2 separate regions of the Homo sapiens genome follow, and region 1 is linked to region 2. Evidence: fine-mapped expression QTL. A gene starts in region 2. The other region holds a variant in brackets. All regions are shown on one strand. Distances are between the middles of the regions. Region 1 overlaps GAS6 (growth arrest specific 6). Region 2 holds the start of GAS6-AS1 (GAS6 antisense RNA 1).

Region 1 (11,767 bases), 22 kb after region 2:
GGGTCCCACTGAACATCCGGCCCAGGTACAAGGACTTCACACTCTTGGCCACGCTGAAGGGCACGCACGGCAAGATGTCCTGCCACGGACGGGGGCCACGCCGGTCGGGGATGTGGCCTTCACTCCTGCTCCCCTGAGCCCCACGCCCCGGCCGCGCAGCGGGTCCACTGTCCCTCCTGTGCCTCGGGAGTGGCCACCCCGCCTCTAGCTGCTGAGACCCCAGAGGCTGTCACACCTGCCCCACTGGGACTCCCAGGTGAAGGGCGGGCTTGCAGCAGCCGCTTCCCACAGGGCTTCTCGGGGGTCCCCGTCATCTCCTTCCCTGCTCATTTCCCTTGACCCTTTATTTTTAAATTATGAAATATTTCAAGCATACAAAAATTACAGAGAATCATTAAAAAGTATACACTATTATGAAATAGATATGGATGCCTTGAAGATGGCTGTCCTGGAAAGTTCCCTGTTCTGGGCTGTGGTTTCTCCACGCTGCCCGAAGGGGGACAGAACCAAAGCCGGTGTGAGCTGACACCCCTGGAAGATGGAGGGGCTGGGGCTGAGCCAGGCCTGCCCTGCCCACCGTGGGCAGCCAGGGTGAGCTGGACATCTCGCAGGGGTCCGACACCCTCTGCATGAGTACATGAGGCAGCGAGGCAAAGAACCTCAAGGCGAGGGCTGGCTGGAAGCCCTGAACGTCGCAGCCCAGACCCAAGAGCCCCACGGCTGCATCCCAGGTCTGCGACTCCGAGAAGCTGTCCTGGTGACTCTTTCCACCTGTGGTTTTGCTTTTTAAATAAATGCTCACTCTCATCAACCCCCAGGCACAGGCCCAGGCTGAAGAGGAAAGACAAGAGCCGCCCTGCCCAGAAACGTCCACATGTGGGTACTGCATTCCTACCGGTGTGACAGGTCAGTGTGACAGGTCGGTGTGACAGGCACCGGTGTGACAGGTCGGTGTGACAGGCACCAGTGTGACAGGCACCAGTGTGACAGGTCGGTGTGACAGACACCGGTGACAAGTCAGTGTGACAGGCAGTGGTGTGACAGGCACCGGTGTGACAGGTCGGTGTGACAGGTACTGTTGTGACAGGTCGGTGTGAGACACTGGTGTGACAAGTCAGTGTGACAGGCAGTGGTGTGACAGGCACCGGTGTGACAGGTCAGTGTGACAGGTACTGTTGTGACAGGTCGGTGTGAGACACTGGTGTGACAAGTCAGTGTGACAGGCAGTGGTGTGACAGGTCGGTGTGACAGGCACCAGTGTGACAGGCCCCGGTGTGACAGGTAGGTCATGCTGTGACAGGCCCCGGTGTGACAGGTCGGTGTGACAGACACCAGTGTGACAGGCCCCGGTGTGACAGGTAGGTCATGCTGTGATAGGCCCCGGTGTGACAGGTCGGTGTGACAGGCACCAGTGTGACAGGTAGGTCATGCTGTGATAGGCCCCGGTGTGACAGGTCGGTGTGACAGGCACCAGTGTGACAGGCCCCGGTGTGACAGGTAGGTCATGCTGTGACAGGCACCGGTGTGACAGGCCCCGGTGTGACAGGTCGGTGTGACAGGCACCGGTGTGACAGGTCGGTCACGTTGGCTCCCTGGCACGCGGCAGAGTGGGGACCGTGCCCCCGTGAGTGTCACACTGGGGTCCACACCAGGCTGATCCACTGTGAGCTGGGAGTTGCCATAGAGACTCTATAAATACAACCAAACATCTTCCAGGGAACAGAAGCGTTTCTCATCCCAAACCTCCACATGGCCCTGGAGATCCCCAACACCTTAGCAAAGGCCAGGTCTTCACGGAAGTGTTTCTCCCGAAAGCCCCCACCGGCGAGGGCCCCCGGAACCACCGTGAAGGGCCCGCGGGGCCAGGGGCCGCCTACCTCACAGGTGTCCATGTCCTGGGACAGCTTGAGGCCCCCACGCCCGTCACAGTGGCAGGTGTAGCTCCCTGGGGAGTTCACGCAGACCTGCTCACAGCGGCCCTGCAGACACTCGTCCACATCTGCCAGCCAGAGGGAAGCGGCGGTGAGCCGGGGAGGCCTCTACGCTGTCCCGCCGTGGGATCACACCGCGATTGCTCAAACCACACGCAAGGTGCGCTCAAGGAATTACATGCAGATTCTAACGGGGGCGGCTTGGGGGTCGCGTCCCCCCCCACTGGAAAGCTAGGTTGCACCCTCGGCCTGCTCCTGCCCGGGCTCTTTCTTGAGGGAATAAAAATGTCGCAGGTGTCCCAGGAGGGTGCTCCCAACGAGCCAGACCCACCCCCGCTGCCGGGCCGGTGTGGAAGGCAGGTCTGGGAAGCACAGGGTCTGGGCTGTGCAGTGAGGTGTCCCCCGGAGCACAGAGGGGCCGACAGCTGTGGTGGGAAATGGAGGTCAGTGCAGGCAGCCTGGGCTTCCCCACCCTCTCTGTCTGCCTACTCAGCCCCACTGTTCCCATCACTGGGGGCACGGCCCCTCTTAGAGGCTCTACGGCCAACAGGGCCCTCCCCATGGCGGCTGGAAAGAGAGAACAGTAGAGGGAGGCTTGCTGCTCCCCGTCCCTTTGGGGAGAGGCCCCGTCTATGCAGGTGGAGAAGGGTACACACGTGTGTACATGCGGTGTATATGCATGTGTGCGGTTCGTTCATGTGCACAAGGGGCATGGGTGCCTGTGTGTGCTCACGTGTGTGCGGGCATGGTGGTAGCACAGGCCATTACCAGGCTGATAGAAACAGGGAGAAAGAGACTTTCTTTCACCAGAAGCACCCGGTTGTTAGCAACCGGCTCGGGCAGTGACTGGCACCCGTGTCTAGACTTGGGCGTCAGAGAAAGCGAGGGTGACCGCGTGGCGTGGGTACCTCGGCAAGCCTTCTCCTGGGAGCTGTACGCAAAGCCCTCGTCACAGAGGCAGGAGTAGGAGCCGGGCAGGTTCTTGCAGCGCGCCTCCCCGCAGGCCTCCGAGTCTGCGCACTCGTCTATGTCTGCAAGCAAAAAAAAACCGGCCAACCGCAGCACAGCGGCATCTCAGACGGGGCTGGGGCAGGCGGCTGCAGGGACTGGCCAGGGCACCACCCAGAGGTCGCATCCAGACTCTGTGGGGCCAGCGCGCCCTGGCCCCATTTCCCTGCCCTCCTCCCCTGACCGGGCAGCTCCCGGGGTGTTGGTGCACGCTTCTGATCAAGGCCCGGCTGGGAAGGCTGACTTCAGCCCAGCAGGTGGAGAGCTGGGAAGGGCCCTGCTTGGTGGAGGGGTGGGGGGCGGCGGTGCACGCTGTGCTGTTCCATTTAAATGACGGTGCTACAGGACACGGGGCCGTAAAAAGTAACCCCCCGGGGGCATTTGAAACTAAAACCCCAACCCCAAAGAGAAGCATTTACTGGTTTCAATCAATTTTCACTACCGGGTTAAACCACAATCCTAAGACTTGAGCATCTAATGTGGGACAGATGCTGTTTACGGCCAAGCACCCTGGGGTAGGAGGGGCAACCCTGAAATGAAGAGCCCTTTAGTCACCAGAGGAGAGCAAAGGCAGGGGCACGGAGAAAGGTGGGGGAGGAGAAGGGGGAGTAGGAGTGGGAGGAGGAAGGGGGGAGGGGAAGGAGGAAGAGGAGGAGGAGGAGGGGGAGAAGGGGGAGGGGGAGAAGGGGGAGGGGGAGAAGGGGAGGGGGAGAAGAGGAGGGGGAGGGGAGGAGGGGAGGAGGAGGGGGTAGGGAGAGGATGGAGAGGAGGGGGAGGAGGGGGAGGAGGAGGAGGGGGAGGAGGAGGGGGAGGGGGAGGAGAATGGGGAAGGGAAGGAGGAGGACGGAGGGGGAGGAGGACGGAGGGGGAGGACGACGGAGGGGGAGGAGGAGGAGAAGCAGGGAGGAAGAGGAGAAGGTGAGGGAGGGGTGGGGGAGGAGGTGAGGGAGGGGGTGGGGAGGGGTGAGGGAGGGGGTGGGGAGGGGTGAGGGAGGGGGTGGGGAGGGGTGGGGGAGGAGGAGGAGAGGGGAAATAAGGATGGGGGAGGAGGAGGGGGAAAAAGAGGAGGGGGAATGAGGAGGAAGAAGAGGGGAATGAGGAGGAAGAAGAGGGGAATGAGGAGGAGGAGGGGGAGGAAGAAGATGGGGAGGAAGAGGGGGAGTGGGGGGAGGAGGAGAAGAAAGAGGAGGAGGAAGATGAGGAGGAGGAGGAAGATGGGGAGGAGGAGGGGGAGTGGGGGGGAGGAGGAGGGGGAGTGGGGAGAGGAGGAGGGGGAGTGGGGAAAGGAGGAGGGGGAATGGTGGGGAGGAAGAGGAAGATGGGGAGGAGGAGGAGAGGACGGGAATGCCTCTGTCACTGTGGGCAGTAACTGTGAGCCTAGACTTTGCCGGGAGTGCCCGACTGGTGCAGGGACCCACGGGAGATGCTTTAGACGTCATCTCTCAGGATCGGCCTAGTCTTCACCTCTCTTTAAACCTGGGGTGCTGCTGTCTTCCAGGTCAGGGATAGAGCAGTGATGGGAGGGGCTCTGTCCTCGGCGGGGAAATGGGTTTATGTGTTAAGATGGGAATCACGTCATCTGCACACAGGGCTAACTCCTGGGTGGTCAGGGAAGGGAACCACCAAAGTGGACAGAAATAGCAGCTGCCTTTTGAAATCGGGGGATGGGGTGTGGCCCCTCCTGTCTGGTCAGATTCACTCTCCAGATCCTGGGGCTGTTTCTCCCTGAGCAACTGTCTGTCCTGTCCACGCAGTTCGGTGTCCTGGACAGTCAGCAGCAGCGCTAAGAACTATGCCAGAAACTCTCAGGGACACGCCTGGGCATGTCCAGATACAACGTGGGGAGGGAGGAGGAAGGTGCTCCCCCTGCAAAGTGGCAAAGGGCCAGTGGCAGCAGCAGCACCTGGAACAGCGTCGGGGGCGCGCACATTCACAGTGACTTTCTGGGGTGTCCTGGGGCTCCCCAGCTCTGGCCCTGGGCTGAGGGAACCCCAGACTGAAATATGAAAGGAAGTGGGGAGGGCAGGGCTATATTTAGTGGACAGAGGGAGACCAACAACGGGGTGCTTCTGGGGATGCTGGGGAGAGTGGACGGCGGGGGGACCCTAGCCTGGAGCCCTGACCCACAAGCTCACTACACAAGTGCCTGGAGCACTTCCAGGCTCTGTGAGGCTCTGGGGAATGGACGAGGCCCTACAGCCAGCAGTGTGGCCTCATGGGCTGGGCCGGCCCCCTGAGTCCTGGCCCTCAGATGCCGGGTGAGTCATCCTGGTGTGGTGCCGAGCAGCTCCCTGTGCTGCGGCTGGCCTGGGCTTGTGTAGTCTCTGCAGGATGCCCCATCCCATCCAGAACCACAGGAACCCAGCCAGCAGCAGCCGCTTGCAGAAGAGCAGACATGACCGAAAATAGAAGGTGGGGAGAGGAGAGAGGAGAGAGGCCTCACCCCAGGGCCTTACCTTGGCAGGTCCTGCCATCAGAGGAGAGCTCGAAGCCGCTGTGGCAGGAACAGTGGAAGCTACCCGGCTTGTTGTGGCAGATCTGGAGGCAGCCCCCGTTCTCCTGGCTGCATTCGTTGACATCTGGGAACAAGCACAGGCCTGAAGGGGAGCCCAAGGGTGCACAGCCCCTGGCTACGGTAGGAAGAGATCCCAGAGGTGCACAGCCCAGCCCTGGAGCAGGGAGGGAGCCCAGAGGTGCACAGCCCAGCCCTGGAGCAGAGAGAGATCCCAAAGGTGCACAGCCCAGCCCTGGAGCAGGGAGGGAGACCAGGGGTCACAGCCTAGCCCCGGAGCAGGAGGAAGGGACCCCGGGGGTGCACAGCCCAGCCCTGGAGCAGGGAGGGAGCCCAGGGGTGCACAGCCCAGCCCCGGAGCAGGAGGAGGGGACCCCGGGGGTGCACAGCCCAGCCCTGGAGCAGGGAGGGAGCCCGGGGGTGCACAGCCCAGCCCCGGAGCAGGAGGAAGGGACCCCGGGGGTGCACAGCCCAGCCCTGGAGCAGGGAGGGAGCCCGGGGGTGCACAGCCCAGCCCCGCAGCAGGAGGAAGGGACCCCGGGGGTGCACAGCCCAGCCCTGGAGCAGGGAGGGAGCCCGGGGGTGCACAGCCCAGCACTGGAGCAGGGAAGGAGCCGGGGGGGTGCACAGCCCAGCACTGGAGCAGGAGGAAGGGACCGCGGGTGTGCACAGCCCAGCCCTGGAGCAGGGAGAGAGCCTGGGAGTGCACAGCCCAGCCCCCGAGCAGAGAGAGATCCTAGAGGTGCACAGCCCAGCCCTGGAGCAGAGAGGGACCCCAGGGCTTGGACCTCACACCCCACTCAGCAGCCCTAGCGTTTCATGGCCCCTGGTCCTGGCCTTGCGTGTGGAGGTAGATGGTGGGAGGGCATGGGGGATCCCCAGCTGCGGTCTCAGCCTGGGGAGCTGCTGGCAGTCACAGCCCACAGGGCTCAGCTCCCTGGATGCCCATGTGCTTGCAGGAGGAGGCTGCAGGCCAGGAGTGACCTCTGGGTGCCGAGGACAGACAAGGCCAGGCCAGAGCTGGCCACTCCTTAGCAAAGCCCTCCCAGGCCACCTGTGGGGTAGGATTTGCCAAAGGGGACAGGCTGGCCTGCTGGGCTCTCCACTATGGGTCTCCACCAGGCCCTGGAGCTATTCTTCCTCCAGGGTCTTCACTGACACCACAGGTCTACACTGAAGGACGGTCAGAGGTGAAATCTCCCCCCGGCCTTTCAATCAGTGGGTGCCACTGACACCACAGGTCTGCACTCAAGGACGGTCAGAGGTGAAATTTCCCCCCCGCCTTTCAATCAGTGGGTGCCACTGACACCACAGGTCTGCACTCAAGGACGGTCAGAGGTGAAATTTCCCCCCCCGCCCTTCAATCAGTGGGTGCTGAGGCATCACTTGGTGTTTCCTTTCCTTCCAGCCCTGCTCCCAGAAAGGAGACTGCAGCTCCTCCCAATTCTCCTGGGGCTCCAGGATACCTCAGGGCTGCAGCCTCCTTGGGGCTGTCGGAGAGCAGCCTGAGGATGGCCGTGCCCCGGAGTGGGAGTGAGGAGCGGGGATCAGGGCAGGGTCGGAGATGGAGGGAGACCCCGCCTTTGTCTTCAGCCTCACGTACCTTTGTCGCAGAGCCGGCCCCCCCAGCCAGCTTTACACAGGCAGAAGAAGTTGCCCATGAGGTCCTGGCAGGCTTGGGTCCCCTTCCTATCGCAGGGGTTGGGCGTGCACTGGTCAGGCAGGTCTGATTGGGGACACAAAGTGGAAAATCATGTTCAGCTGCCCCACCCCTGCGCGCCCAACGCAGCTGAGATCGGGGCGGCTGTGGGGTCTCGGGTCCAGCCCGGAGGAGCTCTGAGGGGCGCAGGCTGAGGCAG[C/T]CCCTGGGCACCCGAGCCCTCTGTGCTGGCCTAGGGCTGACAGAATAGGCTGGCGGGCCCTGGGGCCGGCTCCAGGAAAACTCAGATCAACTGGGAGGGAGTGCCAGCAGGCCTGGACGCAAGGTGGGAAGGGCTGAGGGCAAAGGAGCAGGAACTGCCTGGCGTGAGGCCTGGGAGCTCAGACCTCCCAGGGAGTAGGCACACAGAACCCCCAGCTGACCTGGGGGCTTCCAGGCAGACTCGGAACATTCTGCCTTCCCTGGCCAGCCCCTAGCCCATCTCTGGTGAACTCTCCCTGCTGGGTGTGGCGGGGAGGACCCCAGGCCCAGGCTGCACTGCCAGAGGGGTCCTCCAGGAAGCCCCCCTCTTTCTGCTTAGCTGCCCCCTCTCCACGTGTCTTGATGGCTTTAGGCCAGGTGTGTTCTGCCCTTTCTCAGGGTGGTCACCTGGGCTCAGCTCCTGCAGGGCCAGAGGTCAGGGGAACGGGTGAGGGCCTGAGGGTGGGAACCCGTGCCAGTGCAGCTGCTTCCCAAGCAGTCCCCCATCCGAGAAGCTGCTCACAAACACATTCATACGAGGAGCTGCTCACAAACACGCTTCCAGGACACGGACCCAAACCACGTCCCAGAGGCAGGCAGGGAAGCCCCCGACAGTGCAGTTACGCAAGCCTGAGCCCCGGGAAGTTGGCAGAAAGAACGACAATTACACCCGGAGCTCAAAGAATCCTTTCATGGCTGCTGGCAGAGCAGAAGCAGCTCGGGGCTGAGCATGGCAGTGCTCAGGGGCGCGGTCCACACTCAGCTCAGCCCCACATGAGGACTCAGCCACGCTCAGCTTAGCCACACAGGGCTCCGTGGGGAACCCTGGGTAGGGCCCCCCTGCTGGCTGAGAGAGGGCTCCGGTCCATTGATTCCACACAAGTTCAATAAGGACCAGTCCCTGGGAAAAGTGCAGGCCGGGCCAGCAGGGCCCTAGGGCACTGGGCCAGCATCGTCCTAAGGGGTCAGCCCTGGTGGGGGCACGTCGAGTCTTCAGTGCATGGGCTCTCACTGCCAGCGTGTCGCTTCTGTTCCTGAGGCTCCCAAGGTGACGTTTCCCACCAGGTCTGTAGAATGTGGCGTTTCCACCAGAGGGTCTGGGCTCGGCTGTCAGTGCAGGAGCCGCTTCCATCCCCACCTGGCCGGGGTCAGGGGTGCCCGGTGCCAGGGTGAGCGGCGGGCGGGTCTGTGGTTCACAAAGCTGAGTTCCTCCAGCTCATCCAGGGCTTACAGTCACTGCCTGTGGCCGGCACAGACACAGCCCCTGTCCTCCTAGGCGGGTCCAGGCACCGCGCTCACCAGAGGCCCTGGCTACGAGTCCCAGGCTTCTTGGGGAAGCTGCCCAACCACACTGGCTTCTTTCTGCGACGCTTCGCCGTATGCCTCACAGCGTTTCCTCCGTATGCCTCACAGTTTGCTCCGTACACCCGCGTTTCCTCCGTATGCCCCAGTTTCCTCCATATGCCTCAATTTCCTCCATACGCCCCACAGTTTCCTCCGTATGCCCCAGTTTCCTCCATACGCCCCGGTTTCCTCCATACACCCCACAGTTTCCTCCATACGCCCCACAGTTTCCTCCATATGCCCAGTTTCCTCCATACACCCCACAGTTTCCTCCATATGCCTCAATTTCCTCCATACGCCCCCCAGTTTCTTCCATACACCCCACAGTTTCCTCCATATGCCCAGTTTCCTCCATACACCCCACAGTTTCCTCCATATGCCCAGTTTCCTCCATACGCCCCCCAGTTTCCTCCATACGCCCCACAGTTTCCTCCATACGCCCCACAGTTTCCTCCATACGCCCCACAGTTTCTTCCATACGCCCCACAGTTTCCTCCATATGCCCAGTTTCCTCCATACACCCCACAGTTTCCTCCATATGCCTCAATTTCCTCCATACGCCCCCCAGTTTCTTCCATACACCCCACAGTTTCCTCCATACGCCTCAATTTTCTCTGTACGCCCCACAGTTTCCTCCATATGCCTCAGTTTCCTCCATACGCCCCAGTTTCCTCCATACGCCTCAATTTCCTTTGTACGCCCCAGTTTCCTCCATACGCCCCAGTTTCCTCCATACGCCCCAGTTTCCTCCATACGCCTCAATTTCCTCTGTATGCTTCAGTTTCCTCCATACACCTCAGTTTCCTCCGTCTGCCTCACAGTTTCCTCTATAAGCCTCAGTTTCCTCAGTACACCCCACAGTTTCCTCCCTACACCTCCGTTTGCTTGTTTTGCACAAATGACTGACAACAGAACACTTGTGGGTGTGGACGGAGCTCGCGTCTCGAAGTGTTTCTAAGATGCTATTTTCAGCAGGTCACTATAAACGCTTTCTACTCTGAAGCACACAGGGGCTGGGGCTGGCCTTCGGAGTTACGAGGAAACGAGGACCAGGACCAGGGATTCTGCATCAGCACAGCCGCCAGGAGCCGGCCGGGGCCCCATCCCTGACACTGCTGTCGCCCGGCTGTACCTGGGTGCTGTGTCCGCGGGGCGTCTGGAGACGTCGATGTGGTCATAGCAGGGCCTGGAACGGGGAGGTCTGGCCTGAACTAGAGAAATGAGGGGCGTATCCGCTTCTCCACCCTGGCCTCAGATGAAGAGGCTCTGGGGGCAGGAGGGAGTCAGACACGTGCAGGGCAGGCGGCCTGTGCAGGGCCCAACCCTCCGGCACCAGAACCTGACCTCCTCAGAGGCCCCCACCATGGAGGGATGTCTGGGGGATGCTGTGCGCTGCCGCTACGATGTTTGGTTAGAGATTAAAGCCATTTCAGAAGTGGACACCTGCCCATGTGATGCAAAGGGCTGGGAACCCGGTCTTGACTTTGCCTGGAATGCCTTTCGGAAAGACCTCTGTCCCTGAGGCTGAGGGACAGTGCCTGCTCCTGCCAGGTGCCCAGCTCTTAAGCGGTCCCCAGACTCATGCCACCTGCCCCGGGGCCTCCCCCAACTCATTTGTTTATTTCCCTGTTGGGAATGTATTGATACCTCTAGGATGCAAGGACGGAACCACACCTGAGGGGTGGACAGTCAGCCGGTGCCCAGCAAATATCTGTGGAATTTCCTCCACACAACAGGGAAAGCGATGGAGACAGAAACCTCTGCAGGCCCCCGAGGGCACCCACTTCCCTGACCCCGTCCACCTCCCTGACCCCCGCCCACCTCCCTGATCCCCATCCCGCAAGCTGGGCCTAGGGTATCGGTGGCCTGGCTGGTCATGCCCTGGGCGCCAGCGCCTGTTCAGGAGGTGAAGGGTTTATCTCAGCTTGGCCCATGACTGCGTTGAAGGACAGGAGGGAGCGGCTGTGGCTGTGGCTGGAATCTGAAGCCGGTGCGGGCGGCCAGGGCCTTTCCCTGGGTGGTGACGAGCGAGGACCAGAGCCCTGTCTGCCCGAGGGAAGGGCGAGGGGACACTCCCCGTGGCGGGGGTGGGATCCCGGTAGCCGGGGCTCAGTGACCGCTGCCTGGGCCACCGCCTGTGGGGACCTGACCTTCCTGGGGAAACCCATGGGTCAAAGGAGCCGAGAAATCCAAGCACCAAGTGGCCGCTATGGCAGGACGGGCGCGTTCGCAGTGGAGAAGCTGGGTGTGTCCGTGGGAAAGGAAAGAAATGGAAGCAGAGGCTCTTCAGGGGCACCTGGGAACGCAGCCTACACTCTTCCCAGGCCTCCTCCCTCCGTCCACTGTGCCGCCTGGGTCCTGGGACAGCCTGAGGGCCGCAGGCTCCCATGCAAGGCCCGCTGGGGGCCTGCTTGTCTGGGGCTGAATTTGGACTTTATGGGGCTATGGCTTTAATTTCACAATGACCGATAACCAGTGAACTGAAGCCAGGACAGCACCGTGAGCACCAAGTCAGAGAATTTTCACGAGGGAACCAATGAACAGGAACAGAGTGTGAGGCTGCCCCAGCTGCATCCTCCGGGAGGCGCCTTCCCAAGGGAGTGCAAGGCTGCCTGCTGTGGCCAGGCCACCAAAGCACCTTCTTCACCGCCAGGCATCTTTTGAGGCACGCGAACATCAGAGGCCCCAGCCACGTGCTCTGGAGGAGAAGCTGAGAGCCCCAGGCCACAGGCAGGGCAGCCTCTGAGGGCCGGCTCAGGGAGAGTGGCCGGAGCTTCTGGCCTGGGGCAGGTGGACCCGTTAGAAACTGCATGTGTTGCCTCTGGCACCAGCCACAGCAAGAGATTCTCTTCCTATCACACAGGGAACAAACTCAAGGATCTTGACCTTGCCCTCCTCTCCCCAGCTGGCCGCACTTGGGGACGCTGATGCCACAAAGGAAATAACCAAAACAAGATAACTCTATTGGGCGGCGGGAACAGAAAGGAACATGTAGCAATCACTCCTCTTCATCCATGCAAGGAAGCGAGGCGACGCCTTGAAAAGGACGGCCTTCTTTGCTGCAAATAGCCAGAA
Region 2 (11,767 bases):
CTGTGGGCTTCAGGTGCACAACCACAGGGAGGGGGCAGGCTGGAGACCAGGGAGGGTGACGCTGCCCCGGGAGTGCCTAGGCCACTGGGGCAGAGTCCACTTCTCCTGGGGACCACAGCCTCTTTCCTTAACGCCTTCAGTGGAGAGGAGGGGCCGTCCGTGTCCAGGGGCTGAGGCACTGTACGCAAGGGTGTCAATCACACCTGAAGATGCCTCCACGGCAACACCCAGATGCGTGTGTGAGCCGCTGAGTCAGCCACGGTGACACTGAACCAGCCACACGCTGCTGGACGTGTGGACGTGTGGGGTTCATACGTGGGGCCTTTCCCAAATATGAAGAGTTGGGTGAGCCCAGGGGCCCCAGGCCTGGTGGACCCTAACTGTTGGTTTTGGAGTCAGGTCAGAGGCTCGCTGGCTGTGAGGAAGTGGGATGTGGTCTGAGGACACCCTTCCTGGGGCGTCCACCCCCTGCCCCATGCAGCTGTGGAGGCCAAGGTTGTGCCAGTGAGGCCCCGGCCACCCTCTCCTGTTCTGCCCCGGGCTGGGGCTGCTCCTTCTGGTGGCCCTGGGTCTGTGGGGTGGGGGCCCGTGAGAGTGGTCCTGGGTCTGTGGGGTGGGGGCCAGTGAGAGAGGTCCTGGATCTGTGGGGGGGGCCGGTGAGAGAGGTCCTGGGTCTGTGGGGTGGGGGCCCGTGACAGTGGTCCTGGGTCTGTGGGGGCCCGTGAGAGTGGGCCTGGGCCTGTGGGGGGGCCGGTGAGAGTGGTCCTGGGTCTGTGGGGTGGGGGCCGGTGAGAGAGGTCCTGGGTCTGCGGTGGGGGAGGGGGACGTAAGAGTGGCCCTGGGTCTCCGGGGGAGGGGAGGGGCGTGAGAGTGGCCCTGGGTCTGTGGGAGCCCGTGTGAATAGCCCTGGGTCTGTGGGGGGCCCGTGTGAATAGCCCTGGGTCTGCGGGGGGCCCTGTGTGAGTGGCCCTAGGTCTGAGGGGGCCTGTGTGAATAGCCCTGGGTCTGCGGGGGGCCCATGTGAATGGCCCTGAGTCTGCGGGTGGCCCTGGGTTGGCGGGGTGGGTGGGGAGCGTGTGAGTGGCCCTGGTATATGTCAGGCTTCCCTGTGGTCCGGCACGGGGTGGTCTCACCTGCTAACCCAGGGCCCTCTCTGTTTATTGCAGCCCTGCAGCCGCTTCCCAGTTGCGCCCTCCTCTGCCCTGGCTTCGTCTGAGGACCTGCAGCCCCCTTCTCCAAGCAGCTCTGGCTCTGGGCTTCCCGGCCAGGCTCCACCGTGCTACGCACCCACCTACTTTCCCCCGGGGGAGAAGCCACCCCCCTACGCACCCTGATAGAGGCGTGGAGTAAAAGATAACTTGTTTGTTTTTTTTTTTAAAAAAAAGGCAGCCTCTAGAAATCCCGCTTCTGTGGCCAACCTCCTAGAGAACCCGGGAGAATGTTCCAGAAGTCTGTCCCCTCCTTTCCTCCCTGGGCACACTGGTGAGGGAGGCTGGAACCAGGCAGGGAGTGGGGCCCTCCAGACCCAGGCTGGTGACACCTTGGCTTGGGCTCTGCTCACATCAAATGGCGCTGAAAGTTCCCACCCGGCCTCCTCCTCTGAGAGCAATTGTTCTGGTGTTTTCACATCCCTTAATTAATTAGCTATTATTATGATTTTGCAAAGACAGTGCAGCCCCGGCCTCCCTGCCTGTGTGTTCTTGTTTGTGGACATGTGTTGTGCGTTACACGTTCGTGTGTGCATCTGTGTCCTGGAGAAGCGCAGGGCAGAAGCCACCCGCCCCTCGTGCTGTGCTCCTGACGTATGCCAGGAAGGGAAGGACGCTTCGGCTCCAACGCCCAGCGCTGTGTCTAACCGCCTGTGAGTTGTTAGAATCCAGGGGCCCGGTTGTCTTTCCCAGCCCCGGATGCAAATCTGCCTGGGCCACTGGCACGAGGGTCTTCCCCTGAGCTGTCTCCCAGCTACGGCGCCTGGGCTTCCGCTGTCCTTCCGCGGCTTCTCCCTCACCGCACCTTGTCTCAGGACCCCTGGCCGCTGGGATGGTGGGGGACGGTGTTTCGGGGTCCTTTGGCTCAGGGTCTGGGGCCGCAGCACTCCCTGTGGAAACCAGCTTAGCTCCCCGCGGGCCCAGCATGCACCTGCCGGGCACACCTGGGGAGACGGGTGAGCACGCCTGGGAAGCAGCAGGTCCCGGGTGGGTCACAGGCCCCGGGTGGGTCACAGGACAGGTCTCAGGTGGGTCACAGGTCCTGAGTGGGTCACAGGTCCCGGGTGGGTCACAGGCATCCCGGGTGGGTCACAGGTCCCGAGTGGGTCACAGGCCCCGGGTGAGTCACAGGCCCCGGGTGAGTCACGGGTCCCGGGTGGGTCACGGGTCCCGGGTGGGTCACGGGCCCCGGGTGGGTCACGGGTCCCGGGTGGGTCACGGGTCCCGAGTGGGTCACGGGTCCCGGGTGGGTCACAGGCGCCCCAGTGACAGGAGTTCAGGATGCGCCACCCCAAAGTAGCCGAAGTCTCTTGAAAAGTGTTGGATGTGGGGAGAGGCTTTCTCTGAACTCCTGAAGTCAGATCCTCAGGGAACCAGGGACTCCCAGGGCGGGAGGGCGGGCGAGAGGTGATCCCATTGCTCCCCAGACGTGCCACAAGACACCAAGTCGCCGTCTCTGCTCTGTGGGCCGCTCACGGTTCCCCAGTCACTCCCTCTCCCCTCGGAAGCTGGCGCCTCCAGGCCTCACCGCTCTCAGGGCCTCACGTCCCTCCCTGCAAAGCCCCCCGTGCCTACGATAAACAAGTACCGCTCTTCTCCCGTGTGGGTCTGAGGTCTCCAGCTTACTTCACGGAACAGTGCCCACCTGGGAGGTGGAGCGGGGACTTTCTCCCCTGCCCAGTCCTGGATCTGGGAGAAAAAAGATAAGGTGGAGGGGAGCCACACTCGTGCAGACACAGCCTCCTGCCCCCTCTGCTGCCCGGGAGCCTCCCTCTGTCCGATGGAGGGTCTCACACAGCCTCTGCCCCCTCCGCTGCCCGGGAGCCTCCCTCTGCCCGACGGAGGGTCTCATCCTGTGTCCAGCGCTCCTGGGCAGAAGGCCCACAGCGCACATCCACACATGAACGGTGGCTGGCTGGGCCCAGGGGCCCTAACGGGCCTCTGAAAGGCCTGCAGCCAGCTCTGGTCTGTGAACCCGCCACTGCTTGTCATTTTTATCTTATAAAATCCAGCCTCACAAGCTTGCTGTCCAGGAGAATGTGGTCTTGGCCTCTCAGGGCTGACTGGCCTTGAACCAGTCCGGGAGGTCGGGCACGAGCCGGAGGTGCGGCGTCCTGTCTGGAAATCACCGCCCAGTTCCTCCAGGGCTGTGGGTGCCTGGCTCCGAGTAAGAAGCTGAACAAGCAGCAGAGACCAAGAGGTTTCTGGAGCGCCGGGAGATGCACTCACGAGCGCCTGTGGGGGAAGAAAAGTGTGCCACGGATTTCCCGAGTCCCCAGGGCTCTCACTTTACCTCAGGGAAGGCTCTATGGGCGCCGATGGTGCCGTGGTCTTGTGTGGGCGGTTCCTGGGCACCCTGGAGCTCGGGCTGTGCCCCCGAAGCTGCCTGGTGCAGGCACCAGCACCTCTTGGTGTCCTAGGGGTGCGAACAGCAGAGAAGCTGAACTGCAGGTCTGGGCAGGGAGTCTATGCCCCCTGGAGCTCTGGCCAGCAAAGTCACAGGAATAACCCTCCTTCCCCTCATGTCAGCCCTCGGTCGCAGGGTGCGGTGTGGGGGCATCAGAGTGCTTCCCCGAGGCTGCACTCACCAGCTTCCCCCAAACACAACATCGATCTTTCCCGACTTTTAATCTTGTCTAGAGTCAAAAGCTGTTCAAAAATATTCAACTCCAAGGTCAACAGTTTTGTTCTTGCCACAAAAATGTCCTTATCCTTTATCCCAGCCACAAAGAATGTGAACAATTTGACTCAAGGTTCGTGGTGGCTGGAGGGTCCCCCAGGTCCCAGGGCAGCTCCCACCTGGCGCAGGGCTCCGGCCAATGCCTGGCCTGCAGTGTGGGCGGCGGCTGCTCTCGAGGTGCACCTGTCTCATGTGGACGGATCCTGTCTGGGGCCACCAAGCTCTGCCAGCCTGAGTCACGGTCTGATGAACCCCCTCTCTGGGCTCCGCTGGGGCCTTCTGATCCCAGCCTCCTCTGCAGGGATGGGCTCCCAATCCCGCCCTCACTTGGTTCCCATGCACAGCCGAGGTCAGTGAGACCCTGGAGGCCGCGGGAGATGGGGTGGAGGGGATGGTGGGGCAGGGGGTGCTGGGGGGTTTGGGGGTGCTGTGGCCCCGGGGCAGGGGGTGCTGGGGGGTTTGGGGTGCTGTGGCCCCACCTGCACTCCCTGCCTCACTGGGACAGCACAGGAGACAGGCTTCTCCTGCAGCTCAGAGGTGGGGGCCTAGTGTAGCTGCAGGTTGTGACTGAGGAGGGCAGGGTCAGAGCATTGCCCTGGGCAGGGGTCCGTTGAGACTGGCCCCACCTTATTAGCTTGGGACCTTGGGTTACAGGGAGTCTCCTCCTGCCTCAGTTTCTACATTTCACACAGCAGCACTGCTCACAAGAGCTCCCAAGCAGAGGCAACTACTGAGTGGGGGAGGGACACAGTCCGTCCACATGGGGCCAACGGCCACAAAGAGAGGAAGGGACATGGGTGACGGTCCGTCCACGTGGGGTCACCGGCCACGGAGAGAGGAAGGGACATGGGTGACGGTCCGTCCACGTGGGGTCACCGGCCACGGAGAGAGGAAGGGACATGGGTGACGGTCCGTCCACATGGGGTCACCGGCCACGGAGAGAGGAAGGGACATGGGTGATATGGTTTTGCTGTGTCCCCACCCAAATCTCAACTTGAATTGTATTTCCCAGAATTCCTGCGCGTTGTGGGAGGGACCCAGCGGGAGGTAATTGAATCATGGTGGCTGGTCTTTCCCGTGCTATTCTCGTGATAGTGAGTAAGTCTCACGAGATCTGACTGGTTGATCAGGATTTCCGCTTTTGCTTCTTCCTCATTTTCTCTTGCTCCTGCCGTGTAAGAAGTGCCTTTTGCCTCCCACCGTGATTCTGAGGCCTCCCCAACCATGTGCAATTGTAAGTCCCGTTAAACCTCTTTTTTTCCCAGTCTCGGGTATGTCCTTATTAGCAGTGTGAAAACAGAATACTACAGTGGTCCATCCACACGCGGGTCTCACCCAGCCACAGAGAGGGAGAGGACGTGGCCCATCCACACGCGGGTCACCCGGCCACGGAGAGGAAGGAAGCTCTAACGGGTGCTGAGGCTGTAACACACAGTGCTCAGGGAAGGACACCAGACATGAAGACTGTGTTCTGTTTATATGCAGTGTCCAGAGAAGGCGTGTCCACAGACAGAAGCCGACTGGGAAAGGAGGTGCAGTCACTGCTCAGGGACACGGGTTCTTTTCGGGGAGGCAAGCGTGTTCGCAGCGTGTTCTGTATGGGGAGAGATGCAGTCACTGCTCAGGGACACGGGTTCTTTTCGGGGAGGCAAGCGTGTTTGCAGCGTGTTCTGGATGGGGAGAGGTGCAGTTACTGGTCAGGGACACGAGTTCTTTTCGGGGAGGCAAGCGTGTTTGCAGCGTGTTCTGGATGGGGAGAGGTGCAGTCACTGGTCAGGGATACGAGTTCTTTTCGGGGAGGCAAGTGTGTTCTAAGCGTGTTCTGGATGGGGAGAGGTGCAGTCACTGGTCAGGGACACGAGTTCTTGTGGGAAGAGGAGTGTCCGGGAGCCAGATGGCAGTGATGGGTGGACGGCCCCGTGGATGGACTGACCACCGACCCATGCTCTGCACTCATGAGGCGTGGCTATTGCTGTGTGAATCACATCTCCATGGAAACGGGAGTGGGAGAAACGGGCCCCAAGGATGTTGTGAAGATGGCCTTATGGGGCTGCACTGGTGACTTGGACAGTGCTGGCCACCGGCCCTGCTCAGTGAACAAGAGCCATGGTCATCACCCTCGCCACACAGAGCAGCTCCTCCTGCAGACTTGGGGACCCCGTGGCCACCAGACCCCGCGGTGGGAGCAGAGATGCCTCCGAAACTCTGGAGACCCACAGAGGCAGAAGAGGATTCCACGAGGCCGGGGCCCGTCAGCAGATCCTCAGACGGCGACACGCGCCACTTCCTTTTCTGTTTCCTAGACCTTTTAACTGATGGAATTCAGTAAGCAGAAAACGTGCTTGAAACAAGGGCACCATGGAGCGGACCCTCCCCCTCTCCCCTCGTGGAGTCCTTGACCCTGGGGCAGGTGACCCTTCTTGCTTTGCAGGCAGGGGCTGTGGCTGGAGCTTCTCCTACAAATGGGCTGTGCTGGGATTAGCCCGGCTGTACATTTGCTTTATGCTTCCGTTGGCATTTAAAAATCTGATGTTCATATTTGCCGTATTACGTGAAGTAGGACGAAACGTTCCTTCTTGCTTAGAGCAGTGTTTCCCCAGAGGTGCCCGGGCCCAGGGGACAGTGGCCAACCTCTGGAGACATTTCGTGTTGTCATGAGGCTGGGTGTCCAGGAGGGGGCGATGCTGCATCTGCTGTGCACAGGACGCGGCCACATCAAAGGACCCCACCTGCAAAACACATGCCCAACCTCCTTCCTCCTCTCCAGCCCAGAGTCAGGGCTGTCCCCCCTCCCTCCAGGGGACACATCCCCCCTCCCTCCACGGGATACATCCCCCCTCCCTCCACGGGACACATCCCTCCTCCCCCCACGGGACACATCCCCCCTCCCCCCACGGGACACATCCCCCCTCCCTCCAGGGGACACATCCCCCCTCCCTCCACGGGACACATCCCCCCTCCCTCCACGGGACACATCCCCCCTCCCTCCAGGGAACACATCCCCCCTCCCTCCAGGGGGCACATCCCCCCTCCCTCCACGGGGCACATCACCCCTCCCTCCAGGGGGCACATCCCTCCTCCCTCCAGGGCGCACATCCCTCCTCCCTCTAAGGGGCACATCCCTCCTGCCTCCCCAGGGCACCAGCACTTGCACCACGTGCTCTGTCTTCCCATCCTCTTGCACACCCCAGACATGCCTGGTTGTGGAGGGTGCCAGGTCGCCAACGTGACAGGCCTGGCTGGGCCTCTGTGTTGCAATTCCTAGCACCATTGGTTTTGCTTGTTTGGGACAGTGGTTATTATAACTTCTGGCACCCCCGGAACTCTAAGAAAACAATACTAGGAAACAGAAGTTCCTGATTCGTCTGGAGGCAGAGCAGAAACCCAGGCGGAGGGTTGTGTCCTGAGGACACTGGTGACTGTAGCCTGTGTCTGTGGGGGCCTCCCCACGTCTCTGTCCCTGAGACTGGCCGTTGCCTGTTTTTGCTCCTGGCCGTCTTGACTTGGGGAGGATGGAGGTTGGGCAGGAGCAGGCTCCCAGCCGGCTGGGGAACATTATGGGAGAGCACTGGGGGGCACCCACCAATGTGATCTGACGGACGCCGCAGTGCCGGGCTGGAGGCCGGGATCTGAGGGACGCCGCGGTGCCGGGCTGGAGGCCGGGATCTGAGGGACGCTGCGGTGCCGGGCTGGGATCTGACGGACACCGCGGTGCCGGGCTGGAGGCCGGGATCTGAGGGACGCCGCGGTGCCGGGCTGGAGCCTGGGATCCCAGCGTGCGGCTGTGGCCCCTGTGGCCGTGTGAGGCCGTGCAGTGGGCAGTGCAGGGCTCTCCTGGGGCCCAGGGGGCTGTGTTCCACGGGCTTCTTGGAGCTCTGCTCAGCTGGCTCTGGCATCGTCGGGGTCAGACGAGTTGGCCTGCTTAGCGAGCCGTCAGCATCCACGCCTGGGCCTCCCAGAACTGGGCTTCTGTGCTGATGGCCAGATCCGAGCCCTGGGCCCGACCATCCTCAGCCCAACCAGCACCTGGACATCCCGGAGCCAGCGTGGAGGCCTGGGCTGCGGGTCCCCGACCGTGTGAGCAGCCGGTGGCCATCTGTCCCGGCCCGAGTGGAGAAAGCGCATCTGCCTGCGGAAGGTCCACGTGCTGCTGGGCGAGGCTGGCGAGAGCCGTCACACACACGCGGGGCCGCTGGCGGCAGATGGACGTTTCCGAAGGGAGCCGGCAGGAGCCTGACGTCTGCCCTCTGAGGCCAGGGCCTCCCCCGTCACTATTTTCTCACGGTACCGAAGCGAAAGTTGCCTGCAATACCTCTTAGACTAGGTTGAAGTCCTGAATTCAGGCTGCAGCCCTCAATCAACAGAACTTCTGCCCAGGTGCTGCCAAGATTTTGGGGAGAACAAGAGGCCCTTGCCCGGCGTGTCCAGAGCAAGTGGCATCATGCCCACGATGGCGCAGGGTCATGGGATGTGGCCCGAGGAGCCCATAACTGGCACCGGTCAACAAGAGCCCCAGAGACACAGGGTGGGCCTGCCAGGGACCCTCAGGGACCACCAGGGCCTGGAGGCTCCAGCGTAGACGAGCTGGGCGGCTCTGGACGGCAGGGGATGGGGCCCCCTGTGCATGGCCCCTGGCAAGGTGCCTGGCTGGCCGTCCATCCGTGGGGTGAGCTCGGCCCAGGCGGGCAGGGTCCCTCCAGGTGGGCATGAGTGTTGCTGGCTCCCGAGCCTTGGAGAAGCTCTGCCCATTCCACAGCCGTCAGGCCGGGGGCCAGAGGGAAGCCGCTCCTTCCCGGCCCGAGGCTGCCCCTCAGGAGCCCACTCGGCCGATGCCACCTTGTCAGTCCAGCCAGCGGGGCCTCCCCTGTGGCCTTCAAAGCCACAGGCCTCTTTCTAGAAACCTCTTTGCAGTTCATTTGTGGCGATTTATCCCTGGATGGGTTCTCATGGATTCTATCCTTCTTCTCCACCCGACTTTTCTCTAGGTCAAGTGCTGACCCCAGCCAGGCAGAGGCAAAGATGCCCCGACGCACAGCCTGTCCTGCCCGGTGGGCGCAGCTCTGGGACTGACTGGTGGGAGGTGGGGCTGCTCCGAGCTGCCCCGTCTCACTCCTGCCCAGGGAGCTCCGAGCACGGGTGGGGGTTTGGTCTTAAAGTGGAATCCTGGTTTGGGCCTCAGAGCTGAAACCCTCCCTGATCCCCCGTGTGGCCCCTGCAGTGACCGCATCCACCCTGGGGACCCATGTTTGGCCCAGAGGCTCGAGCACAGGTGGCCGCGTCCCACGGGAGCGTCAAGCCATGAGTCTTGGTCGTCCCCTTGGGACCAAGGAGAAGCAGTGACTCCGTGGCCCCCACCAGCTGCGGCTCCGACATCCTTCCAGGAGGCAGGCAGGGTCCCGACTGCATTTCAGGCACCTGCCTGGCCGCGTTCCGGCTGCCCTGACCTTCCCTGCAGACTTGTGGCCTGCTGGGGTCAGAGAGCACCAGTGACCGCTCCACCCCTTGCAGACAAGGAAGCTGAGGCTGAGGGACATGGGGACCCTGCCAGTGGGGACGCGGGAAGCAGGGCTGGCTTTGCTCCTGGCAAGCTCTACCCCAGACCGACACAGAGAAAGCAGTTTCCCTTTCTCAACAGAACACACTTGAGGCCCGGAAGCAAGTGGATCTGTGCAGGAGGGTGGGGACGGGAATGGCACAGGGGTGCAGGCGCTGCCTCGGTGTCTTCCGGCCCTCGGTCCCAGCTCGGGGTCCCTCCCAGGTTGGCTCAGAGGCCGCTGCCCCAGCAGCCTGCATTTGTGTGCCAAGCCCTCCTCACTCAGCAATGACTGGCTGCCTGTGGTGGGGGCCGAGCAGGGCGTTCTCCGCATTTACAGAACAAGTAAACTGAGGCTCCAGCCCCTGCCGCCACTACCAGAGGAGTCAGAGGCTCCTGGGGAGCAGACCGTGGCTGCCCAACCAGGCTGGGAGCAGAAAAGAGGGAGGGATCTTTGGAGCGGCTGAGGGTGCGGCCTGGAGCCCTGGCAGCCCCGCTCATCCCAAACGCTGCTACGTGTGCAGAACCCCGCGGGGAGCAGATGACGGCCACGCGGTGTTACAAAGCTTTCTGTAAATATTTTATTTTCCATATTTTAGAGTCAGAAAGAAGCGCTTGGTAATAAAAATAATAGAGAATTATTTTCTTCGAGCCCGCTCTGCGCTGCGCCGGCCTCCCCGCGCCCGGGCCCACGGCTGAGTGCGCGGCGTCAGAGGCCCCAAGTCCATCTCACTATTTACAGATATGTTACAGGCCGGGATGGTCACAGAGGAAAGCCCAGCTCTCAGCATGGCCCCACGTGGTGAGGAGCCCCCAGGCTCCTCCCGGCTGTCTCGGACAGAGACTGAGAAGCCTGCCGCGTCCCGTGGGGGCCTAGGCTGCGGCGGGCTCCACGGGGGGGCAGGAGTGGGCCGTGATGTCGCTGTGCTTGTACGCCGCCTCGTCCAGGTCCAGCAGCCTCCGGTTGACCTCCAGTGTCATGCAGCCGCGGTAGAACGCGGTGACTGGCGCTGAAGTCACCGGCACATCTGGGCCGCAGGGAGAGAACAACATATCTTAGCTCACCACGTGGCCGGCCCCGCCTGGCCCCCCCACCCCCGGCAGCGCTTGTGGCCAGCCCCGGGTTCCCTCCGAAAGGGCAGGGTTTCCCTTTCTTCTCTAACTTCTCGGTCCCCGTTCGTTTGGCCGCAGACCCGGCAGACAAGCAGGAGGCATCTGCCAGCCTGGGCTCTGCAGACGCCAGCCCTCCCTTCCCCGCTGGGAGCACAGACAGTCCCATCGGTTAAACGTGATCTTCTTCTGTGCCCAGTGAGTCATTCAGGCTGCAGGCCTCCTGGCTCGCTCTCATCCTCTTCAAAGCTCTGTTTATTAAAACTAAGTGGAGTCTGTGTCTGGCAGCCAAGAGAGAAATCCTGCCGTTTGCCGCAAGTGAAAACCTGCGGGCAGCCGAGGACTTGCCGGCTCCCACGTGCCTTTCCGCTGACCCTCCCAGCTCATGGCAAGGACATCCCCGGTCCCAGCCTCTGTGCTGTGTAGCCCATGGGACACGGCAGGACGCCCTGCTGGACATGGGAGGGGCTGGCGGTCACTCTGTTCGCTGCTAACAGCTGCGGTGACAGCCGCGGGTCCCAACTGCAGCCTGGCCCGAGGTCTGCCCAGCCCTCTCCCCCGGGGCTGGTCTGATGGGTGTGGACGAATGCTCCCTGAAGATGCAGGTTCGTGGGGCCTGACTCAGGCCAATGCCGGCCCCCGTACGTGTTTCTCAGTCTCAGCCAATGACCTGACCAGCACCGAGACACCATAATAGCCACTAACGACCCACCTGGACTTCTCCTTCCTCTTAAAACACAAGTCCTCTTCCGCATTCACTACCAGAAACCCCAGCCTGTCCAGGTTAGATCTGGGGTGACCAAGCTGGGCCTCCCTGGAGCTCTTCACCCGGGTTGAGCGGAGCAGGGAGCACCTACCTGGCAGGCCGCCAGCAAAGGTGAGCACGGGGCTCCGCAGGTGCCTCTCGAGCACGGCCAGCCTCTCCTGCAGCTGCGCGGCGCTCACCTCGCTCTGGCCCCTGGTGCCGTCCACCTCCAGGGTGGCCTCACCGTCCCTCAGCGAGACGGTGACCACGTGCTCTTGGCCGTCGCAGACCTTGATCTCCATTAGGGCCAAGGCCGTATGCTCCACGGCCAGGACCACCAGCTGCAGGAGACCGAGGTGTGGTCAGGGCCTGCCGGCCACCCCTACGTGAGCTGTTAGGTCCAAGCTGGTCCTCACAGCTGCTGGCCACCCCTACGCCGCACGCCTGTCTCCGTCCAGGGTTCCCTGCAGCCCTGGGTCTGGATGCTCGCT

Evidence for each region. PIP is the estimated chance that this variant, and not a neighbour inherited with it, causes the effect.
Region 1: its variant is fine-mapped to the expression of GAS6-AS1 in atrial appendage (GTEx, PIP above 0.99). The same link has a PIP of 0.9 or more in fibroblasts, left ventricle and transverse colon.

The regions. Positions count from the first base shown.
Region 1 is chr13:113,832,674-113,844,440 of GRCh38, forward strand. It overlaps GAS6 (growth arrest specific 6), which reads right to left. Exons shown (of 15, transcript NM_000820.4): 5 at 7,055-7,177; 6 at 5,396-5,518; 7 at 2,840-2,962; 8 at 1,878-1,999; 9 at 1-79. GAS6-AS1 (GAS6 antisense RNA 1) reads left to right here. Exons shown (of 5, transcript NR_044995.2): 2 at 819-906; 3 at 2,011-2,091; 4 at 5,404-5,574; 5 at 9,696-10,168. Among named protein-coding and RNA genes, the nearest start is that of GAS6-AS1, 23 kb to the left of the region's middle. RefSeq lists enhancers at 4,609-4,818, 4,927-5,479, 5,319-5,378, 6,034-6,586, 6,758-7,334. The variant C/T (reference allele first, on the strand shown) is at 7,311.
Region 2 is chr13:113,810,570-113,822,336 of GRCh38, forward strand. It overlaps GAS6-AS1 (GAS6 antisense RNA 1), which reads left to right and starts at 5,041. Exons shown (of 5, transcript NR_044995.2): 1 at 5,041-5,122. TMEM255B (transmembrane protein 255B) reads left to right here. Exons shown (of 9, transcript NM_182614.4): 9 at 1,167-6,426. The coding sequence ends at 1,334. GAS6 (growth arrest specific 6) reads right to left here. Exons shown (of 15, transcript NM_000820.4): 14 at 11,389-11,617; 15 at 9,980-10,449. The coding sequence ends at 10,295. It also overlaps LOC124903220. RefSeq lists enhancers at 4,925-4,994, 5,045-5,284, 5,345-5,464, 10,024-10,573, 11,123-11,671.